Homo sapiens: one gene and its partner. The protein of the gene in region 2 interacts with the protein of the main gene of each other region in a pairwise test. Each region holds a gene or a part of one and is shown on either strand. Other genes may lie near its edges.

Evidence for each region. Proteins that work in one complex are often made in the same cells at the same time.
Region 1: the proteins of MPPED2 (region 2) and FAM72A interact in binary tests that used the Homo sapiens proteins (3 or more experiments, as listed by UniProt).

The regions. Positions count from the first base shown.
Region 1 is NC_000001.11:206,199,564-206,207,842, forward strand, and holds the start of FAM72A (protein FAM72A), read right to left. Parts: upstream 3,277-8,279; 5' UTR 2,463-3,276; coding exon 2,311-2,462; intron 322-2,310; coding exon 244-321; intron 1-243. Other genes in the region: SRGAP2 (SLIT-ROBO Rho GTPase-activating protein 2), read left to right, coding at 6,408-6,474. UniProt on the Homo sapiens protein: May play a role in the regulation of cellular reactive oxygen species metabolism. May participate in cell growth regulation.
Region 2 is NC_000011.10:30,492,097-30,499,659, forward strand, and holds part of MPPED2 (metallophosphoesterase MPPED2), read right to left. Parts: intron 3,426-7,563; coding exon 3,200-3,425; intron 1-3,199. UniProt on the Homo sapiens protein: Displays low metallophosphoesterase activity (in vitro). May play a role in the development of the nervous system.

The sequences.
Region 1 (8,279 bases), on a different chromosome or scaffold from region 2:
TGCCTTGTTCTGAAAATTGAAGCGGATACTGTGAATACACTTTGAAAACTGTAAAATTATATACTAATGTGAAGCATCAGAAAACCCTTTTAAAAAATAGCTCTAAGTAATAAGTAATTTTTCAATGGCTCATTGCATGCTTTATACCAGTCCTTGTTGCAGCCCACTGAACCTTTCTCTATGCTTTGGTGTCAATATCCATCTTCCAAACCCAGAGCTATCCAGAATAGTGCCACAAATTACCATTTTAAACATGCGATGTCCTTCAGTTTACATTTGCAGATTTTGGTGAAATAGCATCTTCCAGTGAAGTCCACTGCGCTGGAGAGAGAAAGGTATAAAAAGACAGTCAGATGTACTTTACAAAAAATTTAATTGTGGCAAAAAATTAACAAAATTTACCAACTTAACAAGTTTTATGTGTGCAGAGCAGATGTGCTAAATATAATCACATTGCTGTGTAATGAATCTCCTGGGTTCAAGTGACCCTCCTACCAGAGTTTCCTGAGTAGGTGGAACTATAGGCGCCCTATACCACATTTTGTTTATCTGTTCATCTGTAGAATCAATGGACATTTGGATTGCTTCCACCTCTTGGCTATTGTGAATAATGCTGTTAATGAACATGGGTGTGCAAATATCTCTTCCAAGATCCAGTTTTGAATTATTTTGGATATGTACCCAGAACTGCTGGATCAGATAGTAATTCTACGCTTGATTTAGCACAAATTTTGTCAATCCAAAGAGCTGAAAGCTAACATAGAACTATAGTATATTTTTAAAGAGTCAGTTCATATTTGTGAGCTCAACATAAACATCTGACAAATTTTCCATTAAAAAAATTTTTATGTGTTCATTGATTCACATACATCTTAGCACGCTAATTCATTATTATTTTAACCCCTACAAAGAAGGGTAGAAAATGGGAAAAACATGATTCTATTCTAGACTTGGGTCTAACCTGTAACAATTCACCTAGCCTTCCTTATGACTGCCCTATTACTTACCATAGCTATTGCAAAGATGAATGGGTTAATATTTTAAATTTGTGTATGAGCTACTAAAAAGAAAAAGCAGTGGACAATGAATCACAGAACTTTGTAGCAGTAGGTTCTATGATTTATTTTCTAGTGTTTTCCCTTTTTTGAAATACATATACGATGTACACACACACAAATGTAAAATATTAACTTAGAATTTAAAAAAATTAAAAAGATTTTAAAATAACACATTTATCTCTGCAATAAATGAGAGCCTTTGGCTTTGCTGTTAGACATGATTACACTTAGACCAATTCAGAAAAGATTTCAAGAAAGGAAGAGTACACAGCTTTACCTGGGTAAATCAAAAAACTTGTAAAGTTTCTATCATTATCATGAAATTCATTTAAAATGAATTGTGGTTATTAACCTGCTTCCTCTGGCTCTATATCCAAAGACTTAGAGAATAACTGTCCACTCATATTTTGGATAATTACTTTCCTTTTAATAATAAAATTTCAATAAATAACTAAATTTTGAAGATTCATGTAGGGCATATATATGTTGATTATGGAAAGGGAAAGTACCATTTAGAGCTAGAAAGAGGTTTATTTGAGTCAAATAAAATGGCTATTTTACCAAATAGGAAGCAAATTCTTAAGGACTCTACACCCAAAAGCAGTTAGTGGCTGAAAACAAACAGATTTTAAAAGGGTTCAATTATGGGAACAAATGTGTAATGTCCAAAATAGTCTTTATTGGAGATAAGGATTAAGGCTAAGTCTCTATTTTTCATCCCATAAAAATCTATTTACATCTCTTTCAGAGAGAGAGAGTTTTGAGGAAAGAAAACTGAATTTGATGAACAACGGATCTGATTTAGGATGCCAATTGCAAATAATGATAGAAAACGGATTTTTTTTTTTTTGGTGCAAAATTTCATGGATAAAAATGAAAAACTTAAATGACCTCTCCTCTCCAACAGTACGGAAAATTTTGCCTGAATTTACCTAAAGTCTACGCCACGGACTTGATTCAGTGAAATAGGATGGTTGGGCAGGGCACTGAACCAGGGATCAAACTTAAGAGATGTGTGGTCGCATGACTGCAATTGAACTAGAAGCATTACATCAGGACTGACCACCTTGGCTAAACCACAGACTTTGTCCAGACAGTCTGCCCACTTAGATATATTCCAAGGGGATCATCAAACTGGTGGGAGTGGCTGAAACACCGAAATGATAACCTCCTTGTTGACTCCCACAGATCCAAGCCATAAGTGTTCCCATTTAGTTAAAAGCTACCGTTGCCCGCCACTAGCATGACTTACTTGGTAGGAGGGATGTCTGTAGAGAAAAGGTCTATTTCAGTATCAGCCAGCAAAACAGCCTTCATTCCCCTAGAGCTGAGCACTTGTTTACAGAATTTGCAACACAGGATGGACACGCACCTGTCCTTGAAACTACAAATGTTGGTAGACATGGCGTCGCAGGAAGGATGAGGTGTGGGATTTTGAAAAAGGAAACAAGAGTAATGCTCCTACTATTTTGATTCCCCTAGGCTAAAATTCAAATTGCGGGACCTAGAGCTTTTCTAAGTCCTAATATTGGGAAGGAAATTAGTTTTTTTTTCTGTTTTCCCGGTGGCGGAGTAGAAGAAGTATTTATTGAGTAGGAACAGGGGAGCGTGGCAAACTTGGCTTTCCTTTTAACTTTTGGAGAAGGGAGTGGAGTTTGAATTGGAGAGGAGGCAGGTGGAGTTTGAAGGGAACTTCTCAACGGCTTTCCCTTTCTGCTGTCTAAAGGAGTCCTCTACACTTCAGCTCCCGCCCCTTCATAGCAATTCCCTCAGCCTTCTCCGATCGTCTAATTTAAAGCTTCTCCTCTTTTAAGACATCCCTTCCCCAGCATTAAGCCCCTCCCCCGGAGCGCTCCGGTTCCCTGCTGTCGGATCTCGGGCTAAGCGTCCCTACCCACGCCTCCTCTTCCCAGGATTCAGAAACTCCCTTCTCTTTTTCTGCCAGGCGATCCCGGATTCTCCTCCGTCCCGCCCCTTTTCTCCCGGACCTTCCTCCGCTCTGCGGGTCCGCGGGCCCCTCTCCTGGCAACCCCCGGCCCTCAGCGTGCTCGCGCTGTTTCTCTCGCGTCCTCCCTTCCCTCAGCTGTCCCTCGTGCCCCCCGCAGTCCCCTCAGGTTTCTTCCCGGAGCGGCTGTTCCCGGGCGCGCGGTGGTGTTGGTGGGGCAGAGCTGAAGTCGCTTTAGAGGCTCAGTCGGCGCTGGGGTCTGTCACCGAACACGTTGGTTTTCGCTCCCTCTTCCGCTTTTCCTGCCTCTCCAACCCGGTATCAGTTTGAATTGCCAGCGCCGCGCACCGATTGGAAGAACTAGAGTTAGCCCCAGTCCCTCATTGGAAGGCTCCGGGGCCTCCCCTCACGAGAGCTTAGTGGCTTGAAGACCGTAGGCACCGCCCCAGTAACGGTGCTGAGATCAATTCGGCTTTCTGGTTGGCTGAGCTTGGCTCCGCCTCCGATCTCATTGGCCGGCTTCGGGAGGTTTCGGCAAACCCTGCCTTCGCCCTAGTGAAAGTGGCAAGGCACGCCCTTCCCGCTTCTTATTGGAAGAGGTTCTACAGTCTCCACCGGTCTCTACTCTTTATTGGTTAAAACTCCCCGCAACACCCCTCCTCTCTACCCCGGCCCAATTGGCCGTGCCTTAGCTCAAGAGTTTGTGTTTGGTCGTCGGTTCCACCTTAATCCCGCCCATCAGTTCTACTTAGGGGTTCAACAACCCGGGGTGGAGCTTAATCTGTGACCACGCCTCGGCAGTGCTAGTCACACCTCCAAGTTTTGCCAGCTCCTCCCCCTCATTCCGGGCCTCTCGGGATCAGCTCTTCCTATTGGCTATGGGCCCCATCGGTCGATAGAAAACGGGCGGTGATTGGTAAAGGGGTGGGCTCTACTTCCCGGCGGGGTCCTGCGGAGTTGGCGGAGGCTCCTCCAGGGACTGGGGCACCGATCTGCGTAGAAACGGGTGGCGGGGAAGAGAGGGGAGGAGAGCTCTGAGTGGGAAGCGGAGCCGGGGGCCTGGGACCCGTCGCGTCAGAGCCAGGTAAAGGCTCCTTCCCTCTTCCTTTTCTTCCTCCCGGCCGCCGGGCTGGAGCCCTGACTGAACAAACCGGGGCTGGGGCGGGAAGGAGAGGGCGCGGATGCTGCTCGCGGCATCGCCTTAGCGGTGCCGCCCGGAATCCCTCAGACCGCCCCCCCTCCACCCTCTCCAAATCTCCCAGTACAGCCCATAATACTTCTCAGGACTGCGAGTCTCTCCGCCCATCACTGTACAGCCTGGGACTCCGTCCTGGCTCACGGACCGCAGCGCAGCCGGCACCCAGCCGCCTCTCCCTTTCCTCCGCACACGGGCAGCCGCGGTCCACCGTAGGGCAGTCGTCGTTGGCATCGCGCGTAATCATCGGCCGGCCTCCTCCAGTGTCTCCCAGCCCTGGCGGACAGCCCGGGTCCCAGCCTAGGACCCAGGAGGATGGGTGTTCCGCGCAGCTTCCGGGGCTCTCCCCGAGTCCCACCCCCCGGCCCGCCCCGATGGACTTCTCTTCGCCCACTCCCATCCCTAGACCACATCTCGGCCCCCACAGTTCCTGACATCCTTGCGCTTCACGCAACATCGCGGCCCATGATCATGCCCCAATTCCCCTCACCTCTAAGGCAGCCTTCTCCTTGCCGCCTCCCGCCTTCCGAGCGTGTGCAACTCCAATTGTCCCCGGGCTCCCTTCCAGCCTCAGGACCCCATCTCACACCCGCCTCTCGCTTCCCGCTTCCCGCTCGCCTGAACCCCGCCGCCTCTGCTCCCTGTCTTGTTCCCTCAGCGTGGCCCCTTCCTCCAGCCGCGGGAAGTGGGAGACGCTAGCGGGAGCTTCCTCCTCCCGGCGCTCGGAGGAAAAGGAAAGACCAAGTAGAAAGGGTCGCCGCTGCGGCACGCGAGGGAGCTAGTCGCCGGGCTCCGCGCTCCCGCTTGCGTCCCTCCAGCCCCCTGGGCCTCGTCCGGGGCCGGATCTTCTCGGGCACCGCCTGGTGCGAGGAGTCAGGACTGCGACCTCACCGACCTCCTCCCATCCCCAGCCTGGGATTGGGTGGGATATCTGGGATCTCTGAGCTTGGGTGTCAAAAAAATATTGGGGGTGGCATTTATAGTCACTATCGTCCCTAGCTTGAGGGAGGCGACGGCTGCCTTCCGCTCGCCGCCCCCCGGTTTTCCCGGCTCCGACCCTATCCTCTAACCCGTTTCCTGCTTCAGCTGACCACATTGTTTTCCTGGATGTGTCCCGTGCCGAGCAGGCTTTTTCCTGCAGATTTGCCCCCCCCCCCATCAACATTTTGCTGCCAAGAGAAGCTAGTAACCAAAAACAAAACAACTGGGAGGAGGGGCGGGAGAGGAAGAAAAGTTGTGCCCTGGTGGCTTATCCCTCCCCGGCTTTGATCCCCTTTGATGTACAGGGAGGTGCCCCGGCCGGGGGTCTGGGGCCACGTCGGGGGCTAGGTCGGGAGGGCTCCCTCGGGCTGGCCGCTGCCCAGCGCTGGCGGGGCTCAGGAGGCCGCCGAGGTGCCGCAGTCCCCGCCTGGTGCCCCGCGTTCCTGCAGTCCCCGCCCGGAGCCCGCGCAGGCGGCTGCTCCAAAGTGTTTTCTTTCAGCCTTAAAATCCGGAGGGAGCTTCCTTCCTCCCCACCTCGTAGCGCCAGGCTCTGCGGGCGGGGAGACGTTAAGCGGACAGGAATGGGCCCAGGGCGGGCTCGGAACGACGTCCCCTACCCCACCCCCGCCGCGATTAGGATCTGCGCTCTGGCTGATCGCCCCCTCCCCCTTTTCCTGCATTTACAGGCAAGTGAACCGGAGCAAACGACTTCCGATCCAGTCTGCGCTGTTGCGGCTCCCGTTTGGGATTTGATTTGCAGCATCTTTGAGCCTCTACGACAAAAAACCGCGAAGCACGCCCAGCCCTCCCCCGGCACCCCGAAAAGCACCCACTCCCTCCCGGGGACACAGCTGGGCGCGTCCACACCCCCGCAGCCCCACACCATGTTGTGCGGAAGGACTTCCACTCCCCGCCTGTGTCGTTGATGTCAGACCCCAGGCCAGCCTCCGGGCGCTGCAGTTCTCCCGGCTAATGCTGAGGCTGCGGCTCCGGCTCTAGCACAGGCACCAGCCGCCGCCGCACCCGGCCCCAGCGCCCACCGTCTGCATGTGCCCGCCGTAGCCGTCTGCCCAGCCCGCAGCCCGCGCTCCACGGAGCGCTGGAGACCACCGTGGGGGGCCCCTTCTGCCCTCGAGAGAAGCGGTCTTGGAGGTATTGATTTAGGTGGTTGGATTTTTTCCGTGGATCTATCAATTCACAATTCGAATTTGGAAGAAAGAAGGAAAACATGACGTCTCCAGCCAAATTCAAAAAGGATAAGGAGATCATAGCAGAGTACGATACTCAGGTCAAAGGTAAGGGCTTTGAAAAATAGCACACTGCAAATGCTCTGTGGACTGGTGAGGCGTGTATTTCCACCGTGATTTGCAGGTTGTTCATTTCTTTGGGTGGAGCAGATGGGGGCAGGCTGACCCCAGAGGTGGTTTCATAGATGGGTCTGAACCTCCAAAGGATGGGCAATGCCAGGGGGCCATTGACACTGGAAAGGAATTTTTGCAGTGGGCTGTAGGAGTATCTTTGTGGGGCTGACCATGATTTTGGCAGCCCTTTCCCCCCCAAGCCGGACAGGGTGGGGGGAGGGGCAGGAGGCTCTTAGAGAAAGGCAGTTTGCCTCCGGTTCTCTGGGTCAGGTTTCCTTGAAAGACAACTGAAATCTGACAGGTGTTTGGACATTTGTTTCAGAGATTGAAGAGGAGTCCAGACAGAAAGGCAACCTTGGGAAGGTGTACCATTTGGAGAGCCTTGGGAGAGGCGGGGTTTTTCGGATGCACTATATTAAAACATGAGATTTGCAATGGCATTGGCACCAAAAGTCCATTGCCACCTTGGGTGTACCTTGTACCTGCCTGGTCTCTGGTCGGCCTGCATACAATCAGAGATCAGAGAATAAGGCCACCCACGCCCGGTCTCCGCCCTCACCTAAATCTGAATAGAGTTGGGAGGATGTTAGGGTAGCCGGTTGGTGCTGATTCTGGAAAATGGGAAGACATAATTGTTTAACCCTTCTGTGCTGTGGCCCTCTGCTCCGGAAGACATGCTTTTAAAGCCCCATTTCCCTCTCCTGAAAAATGTGAAGGGTAAAGCAAAATGTGGACTAGGAGAAACCAAGTGACCTGTCTTCTCATCTAGTCGACTGACTTGACTCATGAATAAGAGCCCTTACTCAGATAGCGTTTTTTAAACCAGCAGTTCCCATAGGAAGGGTTCCTGCCTGTTAAAGAGCTGCAGCATGTGTTTGTGCAAGGCACTGTCCCTTCCTGGTCAGTCACTGGAAAGAGCCATGTGGCTCCAGCCCATTGAGACCTTAGCTGGGGAGTGGAAGAGGTGGGTGGCCTTGAATGTTACACCACATGGTTGGAGCTCTGGGTTTTCCTTTGTTTCAGAGTACAGAGGGAGGGGCCCCTCCTTTCCCTGCACCAGTGCAAGGAGACCTTTTCCTATCAGAGAGGACTTGGGAAGGGCCATGGCTCCCCTCTAATGATTGCTGGGGGGTGGGGGTAGGTGTAGAGTTTGAAATGGGCAGCTCCCTTATCTCTTGGAAGGTTGGAAGGTAGTCTGAAGTCCTCATTGTACCTACAGGATCTTTTTTATGTCATTAGTTTGGTCAGTGCTGGAGGTGCCCTAAGGGGCCTTCTATCCACTTGGCTGCAAATATTGGTAGGTTTATTACAGAGATGGGGGAGTTGACTGATTGATAGCTTCAGTTGAACTGGGATTGAGAGAGGTGTGGTTGTGAGTTATTATTGAGGTCTTGGCCTCTTGTCACTGTTCATAATCCAGGCTTGTTTTTGTAAACAATAGGCCACTGGCCTCCATGTCCTGTCCAGATGCATTGCATTTGCTCTTGGAATCCCCCCTGCAGTTTTAACCAGATATGTCTTTTTTTTTTTTTTTTTTTAACACATCCTATTCTTAAACTGTTGCCATCGGGAGTGTTAATAACTTTGATCTTCCCAGATTTCTCTCCAGAAGCACGCCATTTGACTAAGGTGCAAAGTGACTTTAAATGTTTAATTTTTGGAAGGTTCAAGGCTGATAGGTGTTAATAGAACCATATCTGCCAATTTCTTATTGGCAAAGGATTTCTCAAGAGTGTCTC
Region 2 (7,563 bases):
AAACATTTTAAATGATATCAATCCAGTTCAGATATAAACTTTGTCTGCAGTTTGCAGCACCACCAAAAACAGATCATGCCCTGCCACATCACATATCTGAATTAGTCTGTTTGTTCGATTGCTTGAGATGCTGCAAGATCTGCCTGAGGACCAAAATCATTCCCTCATTCATCACAGCTACAATCTAGTTTAGCTGAACCCTGTCCTAAACAGATTTGAATCAGCTCAGATAATGGAGGAAGTTTGTTGCTGTCATCATTTCAGCAACTATCAGTCCAGGGATTTCTGAACATCTGCTTGCTCAGGAATAGCCTTAAATGTCCTGTGCCTTTTAAGGATTTTTTCAAAAGTAATCTTAAATTATTTTTAAACAATGATCTTAACTTGCATGTAGAGCACCTCTGCCAATCAGAGGTCATTCCTCAACTACTGTACTGACATTAAGAACTGGGCTGTGAAGCTGGAAATGCTCTGTCTCCTGCCCTTTACCCAGAAATGCTAATATCAACATCCTACATGACCCCAGATTACAGTTTGACAGGACTGATTTCTGCTGTTTATTCTCTTGCCCTTTACCACGTTCTCACACATTAAAAAAATAAATTGACGTACCTTACTAAATAAAGCTAGGTATAAACTGGATCTGAGGATTATAACCACCAATTACCACATCCCAACCCCTGCCACCCCTCAGTCATGCTGTACACCCTGGAATCAGACTTGTCAGGTTCAAATCAGACCTCTTATTATCTGTGGCGATTCTTGAGCAATTACTTAACTTTTCTGCACCTGGATTTTCTTATCTGCCAAATGAGAATCATAATAGTGCCCATCTCCTAAAGGTATTTTGAGGATTAAATAAGATGACACGTATACAAAAAATGTAGGACAATGCCTGGCATATAGGAAGTACTTAATTAAGAGTTCAAAATCATTGTCGGGGTTGATTTTAAACAGATATGTACTTCCTGTACCCACTCACCAGTCCTTCTGGATACCAACTCGTAAAGCTAGAAAAAAAATTATAGAAAATATCTCGCACTTTGGGAGGCCGAGGCGGGCGGATCACGAGGTCAGGAGATCGAGACCACGGTGAAACCCCGTCTCTACTAAAAATACAAAAAATTAGCCGGGCGCAGTGGCGGGCGCCTGTAGTCCCAGCTACTCGGGAGGCTGAGGCAGGAGAATGGCGTGAACCCGGAAGGCGGAGCTTGCAGTGAGCGGAGATCGCGCCACAGCACTCCCGCCTGGGCGACAGAACGAGACTCCGTCTCAAAAAAAAAAAAAAAAAGAAAATATCTCAACCTTTTAACTTACAGAGGACAAGCCAAACTGTTGAGTAAAGTGACCAATCTGAATTCAGTCTGCTTGTCTTTTTCCAGTCCTATCCACAACTCCTAGTGAAGGACTGGGGTACTTTTCTGTATTAAGTGAGTAAAGGTGAGTTCTTCTGCTCTACATACACACACACAGGTTAGTTTTGCTCTATATACACCCTCAAAAAAAAAAAAAGTCCTAGAACCTGCTGATATTGACAATCATTTAGTCTAACATTCTCATTTTAAAGATAAAAAAAAAAACTGGCTCTAGGGCCTAAATGACTTGCCTAAGTTCACATAAATACTTAGTGGGAGAGCCCAAGGCCAGAAAAATTATAATTCATACCCTAAGCAAACTATCCGATATTCTCTTCAGTCCACTGCAAACTTTACCTATTTTATCCTTATCATAACCCTCTAAAATAGGTATCATCTTCACCATCTTAGAGATGTGAAAACTGAGGCTCAGACACTGTGAAGTAACTCCTTTAAAACCTGACAACTGTCAACTGATACAATCAAGATTGACACGCTTCTTGTCTGGCCTCCAAGGATACATGTACCTGTTTCAAGTTTTCCAGAGCTTAGTTCTGAGAATTCTAGTGCCAGCTCTCAACCAGTAACTTTCAAACCACCTGTGCATCAGTCTTGCCCAGGTAACTTTAAAAAATACAAACTGCTGGGCTTCATCTCAGGAAGGACAATCAGAGTCTCTGGAGGAAGGGCTTCAAAATCTATATTTCTACAGAGACGGTAATTCTGATGTGTAGGGAGGTTTGAGAAACCCTAATCTAAGCAAGATATTTTATGACTGCTTCCAGTACAAAATGAGAGGGAAATGAGTTACCTAAGGCTGATGGAATGTTCAGAGCAGCTGAATCTATGTGAAGGGTAGCATGGTGACCTCCTCTCAAATCCTTCTGTGTCACACAGACATACACCCAGCCCCAGTAACATAAACATATACAGCCAGCCCTCCATAATCAGAGGTTCCGCATCCAGGGATTTAACCAACCAAGGATAGAAAATATTAGAAAAAGGGCCAGGAGCGGTGGCTTATACCTGTAATCCCAGCACTTTGGGAGGCCAAGGCGGGCCAATCACCTGAGGTCAGGAGTTCAAGACCAGCCTGGCCAACATGGTGAAACCCCGTCTCTACTAAAAATATGAAAATTAGCCGGGTACAGTGGCATGTGCCTGTAATCCCAGGTACTTTGGAGGCTGAGGCAGGAGAATTGCTCGAACCCAGGAGGCGGAGGTTGCAGTGAGCTGAGATCACACCACTGCATTCCAGCCTGGGCAACAGAGAGATACTCCACCTCAAAAAAAAAAAAAAAAAAAAAAAGAAAGAAAGAAAGAAAGAAAAGAGAAGAAAAGAAAAGAAAATATTGGAAAAAGGATTGCCTCTATGTTGGATATTTTTTGTCATTAATCCTTAAACCATAAAACATAACAATGATTTATATCATATTTACATTGTATTATGTATTATAAGTAATCTAGAGATGATTTAAAGTCTTCACGAGGATGTGCATAGGTTATATGCAAATACTACACCATTTTATATAAAAGACTTGAGCATGATGGAATTTTATCAGTGGGAGGTCCTGGACCAATACCCCATGGACACTGAGGGAGGCATGACTGTATATATCTAGGAAAGCTTTAACTCCTATTGATCTTGCCTAAAGGGATCTCTATCACAATGAAAACAACAAGTGTTGCATTTTGCAGCAGTACAGTATGTATTTTGTTGGAAATACAGCAATAAGGTTTCCTTTCATCCTAATCATTTTCATTTAAAGCATCTAAATCTGAGCTGTGTTTTCTTGGTACTGAGCTAAAAAGCAATGTGGAAAACTGTTTGAATCATCACTTACCAAGGTGCACCGTATATCCTGAATCCCTTCACTGTTACCTCCGAATCTTGTAAGTAAATACTGTTTGTCAGGAGGGACTGAACATTGTCAAAGTCCTCTGGTTTCAATTTGGACACAGAGGGGAAACGGTAGTAGTCCTGTTTAACAAGGTCTGCCATGAATTCCTTATCAAATGTCAGTTCATGATTCCCAGCAATCACTATTTTATATTCATATGGCAGGTTTCCTGAAATAAGAAAAAAGAGCACCAATTAGCACGTTCATTTCCCATCACAAAGTACAACAGCCGAGACTGTGTGATTAGCAGACAGCTCACCCAAATGAAATAGCTCGCAAATTCCTTTACATTTCCATGTGAACTGGAATTTATGACTACTACTTTATGCTAACAAAAATGACAATAACGGGAAATAGGAAGCTGCTAAGTAGCTAAAACGTTGCTAAAAAGACATTAAGTTTTCTAGTTCCATTTCCCTCTTCTGTATGCTATGTATTCATTGTGATGAATCCACAGGGTAATGAATCCACACTTTATATTTATCCAGTAAAAAGCTCTTTAATCACGATCCTTAAGAGAAGGTCTGTACCTAGTTTGGTCCTCAAAACATAATCTAACCAACTATTCTTAACAACTTAGATAACTACTAGATTTTTAGTATATGCTTCATACTAAAGACATGGCATAGTCAAACATTCCATAATTGACATACATTAAAGGAACCAGATAGTATAATTTCATATTTCAACTCTAATTTTAAGTTTCCTTTTTGGGTTGTGAATAAAAAGAACATTAGTAAGGGCCCCCTGATTAGAAGGCTAACTTTCCTCCTATTGGGATGGGAGAAGAAACTGTAAAGTTTAACCCTCTTTTAATATTTATGGTATGGAAATGTGAGTTCTCAGTGTGTGCTTTTTATGCAAAAGTTTCCTGATCAAAATGAGATAATTCTGGGAAGAAGAATGAAAGCTATAAAGGAAAACCCAAACACCAGACTTCTGCATAGATTTATAATGTTTGAATAAAGTACGGGTCATACATATTAATAACTCACCGTGATGCTATAAGAACGAAAATCCAAAGGGAGATAGTGCCGGGCAGCTGTCCCCACCTGAAATTAATGTTCTTTTCCTTACTCTGTCACTACCCATCCCTCAAGCCTCACTGTTCATCTGCTGCTTTTTATTTTATTTTATTTTGGAGGAAAAAAAGAGTGGGACAATGGCACCTATAATTCCAGCTTTCTGAGACCTATGGGTCTGATGTGAAATTAATGTTTCCTGCTATTCCAGGAAGAATTAAAGTTACCACTAGCAGGAAATTGGATACACTTGTTGTAAGAACTGGTCCTTACCAGCAAGCCAGAGTCTCAATGATTTCATTAAGGAAACTTAGTGGGGAAGAGAATTTTGTGGGCGGGGGGTGGGGGGAGGTGAGGGGAGCAAGTTCCATCGTCAGTCCACTTGGATTTCAGCAATTCAAACTGTAAAGATTACATTGTGAAGTCCACACAGTCTCAGCAGCACATCACAAACATATTTGCTAATATTGAAGCAGTTTTTAAGACTGCCAAACCATGTTTTGTATATTACTGCCTTTTCTTTAGTTATTAATTGTTAGATTTCTGACAATAATAAAATTGCATATATAGCAAGGGCAATAATGGGGAGGCTTAAGAGAGAGATGAAAGCAGTCTGATAGAAAATAACACTGCAGAGAGAGGAAACCAGAAACGCTGAGGCCAAGCAGCAATGGATATCTTTGACTACTAGCCCACAGTGCTGTATGTCACGTCTTTGGCCTCAGTTATTTGTAAGGCTATGCTGAAGAGTTCAAAAAAGAATAGGAAGCCTCCCTCAAATGCATGTTTATGCGAATTTGGTAATTAAGAGTATGATGTACATAGCAAGTTGTTTGGATAGAATGGTGGTATCTTGCACAATTCCAGAACTTCAAGTGCAGATGAAAGATATATCAATAGGGCCACAAATTCCCAGTACTGCACATGCTGGAAATTTGTGAGAGACCCTACAACTCTAATATCATGGCTCTGTGACCCTATGAGTCTAATAGTGCTCCCCGCCCCAATTCACCTGTGCTCCCAAAGCCGGAACAGGCTAAAACGTTTTCCCAGACAGCAATGTCTTCCAAGGCCGGTCCTTACTGTGTGATTCTTAGAGCAGAAGATTTTACCTGTACAAGTCACACTGTAGTTGCCCAGTTCCCCTTTAATCATTCACGATGATGGGACTCACTGTAAACCCTTTCATTATGTGCCACCGCTCTTGCAGGAAGCCTGGGTTTCTCAATTTATCCTCGTTTTAGGGCTCGGGTTCAGGGACAGCGTGGGTGAGACTAGCCACTATGGCAAAGGAAGTATATTTTCCCCCTTCAGACTGGGTTTTTCCTTTCTTTCTTTCTTTCTTTCTTTTTAGTAAAACTGCTGCAAAGTAAATCTTTCTCAGAAAGACAAGCATCTTTGGTGTCTTTTAAATCAAATTTTGGAGACTCAGCATAAAAAGGTAGCCACCAAAATGAAGAGCCACAAAAAAGGTGATGATATTTACACATCACCAACAAACTCATCTTTTTCCGAGAATCCAGTAGTAGCTTCCAACTTCTATCCTCTGTTACCGATGTTATGAGATTGTCTGACATATTTTCTTTTTTGCTGAACTGACCTTTCATCTATAATCTGCCAACCTTTATGTTTTATATGAAAAGTGTAAACAGGGCAGCTGACAAATCTCCTGTTACTTGACGGCATTTTCGTTGTTTTTTTTTTTCCAGACTAGATTAATTGGGAAGGCCCTGCAGTCAAGCTTCAAACTTCTTGGTATTCAAATAGCAACACTTTAAAATTGTCAGGCAAAGAGGTGCCTGCCTTTTTCCATTTTATTCAGATCATGCCAGCTAAGCTGACCTGCTTGTATAAAAAAAACCAAGGCCATATATATACTCTAACATGGAAAAAAAATCCTTGCTCTGAATGACCCAAAGAACTCTACCAGCCGGGCACGGTGGCTCACACCCGGAATCCCAGCACTTTGGGAGGTCAAGACAGGCAGATCACCTGAGGTCAGGAGTTTGAGACCAGCCTGGCCAATGTGATAAAACCCTATCTCTACTAAAAATACAAAAATTAGCCGGGTGTGGTAGCAGGAGAATTGCTTGAACCCCGGAGGTGCAGGTTGCTGTGAGCCGAGATTGAACCACTGTACTCCAGCCTGGGTGACAAGAGCAAAACTTGTCTCAAAAAAAAAAAAAAAAAGAACGCTACCAACCAACCAGTTTCATCGTTCCCAAGGCATGGTCTATGTTCTACTAATGGTACACAAGATTATTTTAGGTGAAATGGAAAGGAACCTTTGACAAAATGTCAAATAGTTTTGTATTTTAAAACTACTTTTAAGAATGCATTGTTTGGACAAATACAATATAAAAGTATAAGTAATGATATATAGCTTCCTTTTTTCTATCTTTATATGTAAAATAAGAGGTAATTTCAAGAAAATTACTGAGCAAATAGTAGAGGTAACTTACAGGGACAATAAAGTGACAATGGTAGGAAGTGAATTAATGAGATGTGGAAAACTTGCTCATCAGTTCAGGTTAGAGCTACAGAATGTAAGTGAGACCATAAAAGAGGCAGTTATTTGAGTTTTATCTATTCTGTATCTTCTGCACTTAGTGGTGTCACATAAGTAGATACTCATGAACTGAAAGTCAACAGGGTCCTCGCTGCTACTTGACGTTCTAAGTGCCCCACACTCCAGCCACTACCTCCCCAAAGCAGCCATCACAAAATTTGTCCAGGTTCCTCTCTAGCTCCCAGGCTCCAACTGAGCCCCTCTCCAGACATGCAAAATACCCTCTAACCACATGTGTACAGAAGGAGGGAGGTTCTCTTCACTTCTGCCTTTTCACTTTCCCATCACACCATCTGTTTGCATCTTCTTATCTTTCTAACAGAGGTTGAGCATCCTTTATCTGAAATGCTTGTGACCAGAATCATTTAGGATTTTGGATTTTTTCAGATTTTGGAATATTTGTGTTACACTGATTGAACATTCCAAATCCCAAAATCCAAAATCTGAAATGCTCCAATGAACATTTTCACTGAGTGTCATGTCAGTGCTCAAAATGTTTCAGATTTTGGAACACTTTGGATTTTGGATTCTCATAGTAGGGATGTTCAATTTGCAAATTGGCCTCTTAATCTGATTCCTCCCACTCCCATAAGCACCTTCCTTTTCCAGGCATCTCCTCTCTTTGATATTTTGGGCCTCTCTCTATACATTGAATCCTCCTCCTTGGTGAGTTTATATTTACCCACTCCAAGAAAACAAAAACAAACAACCCTTGA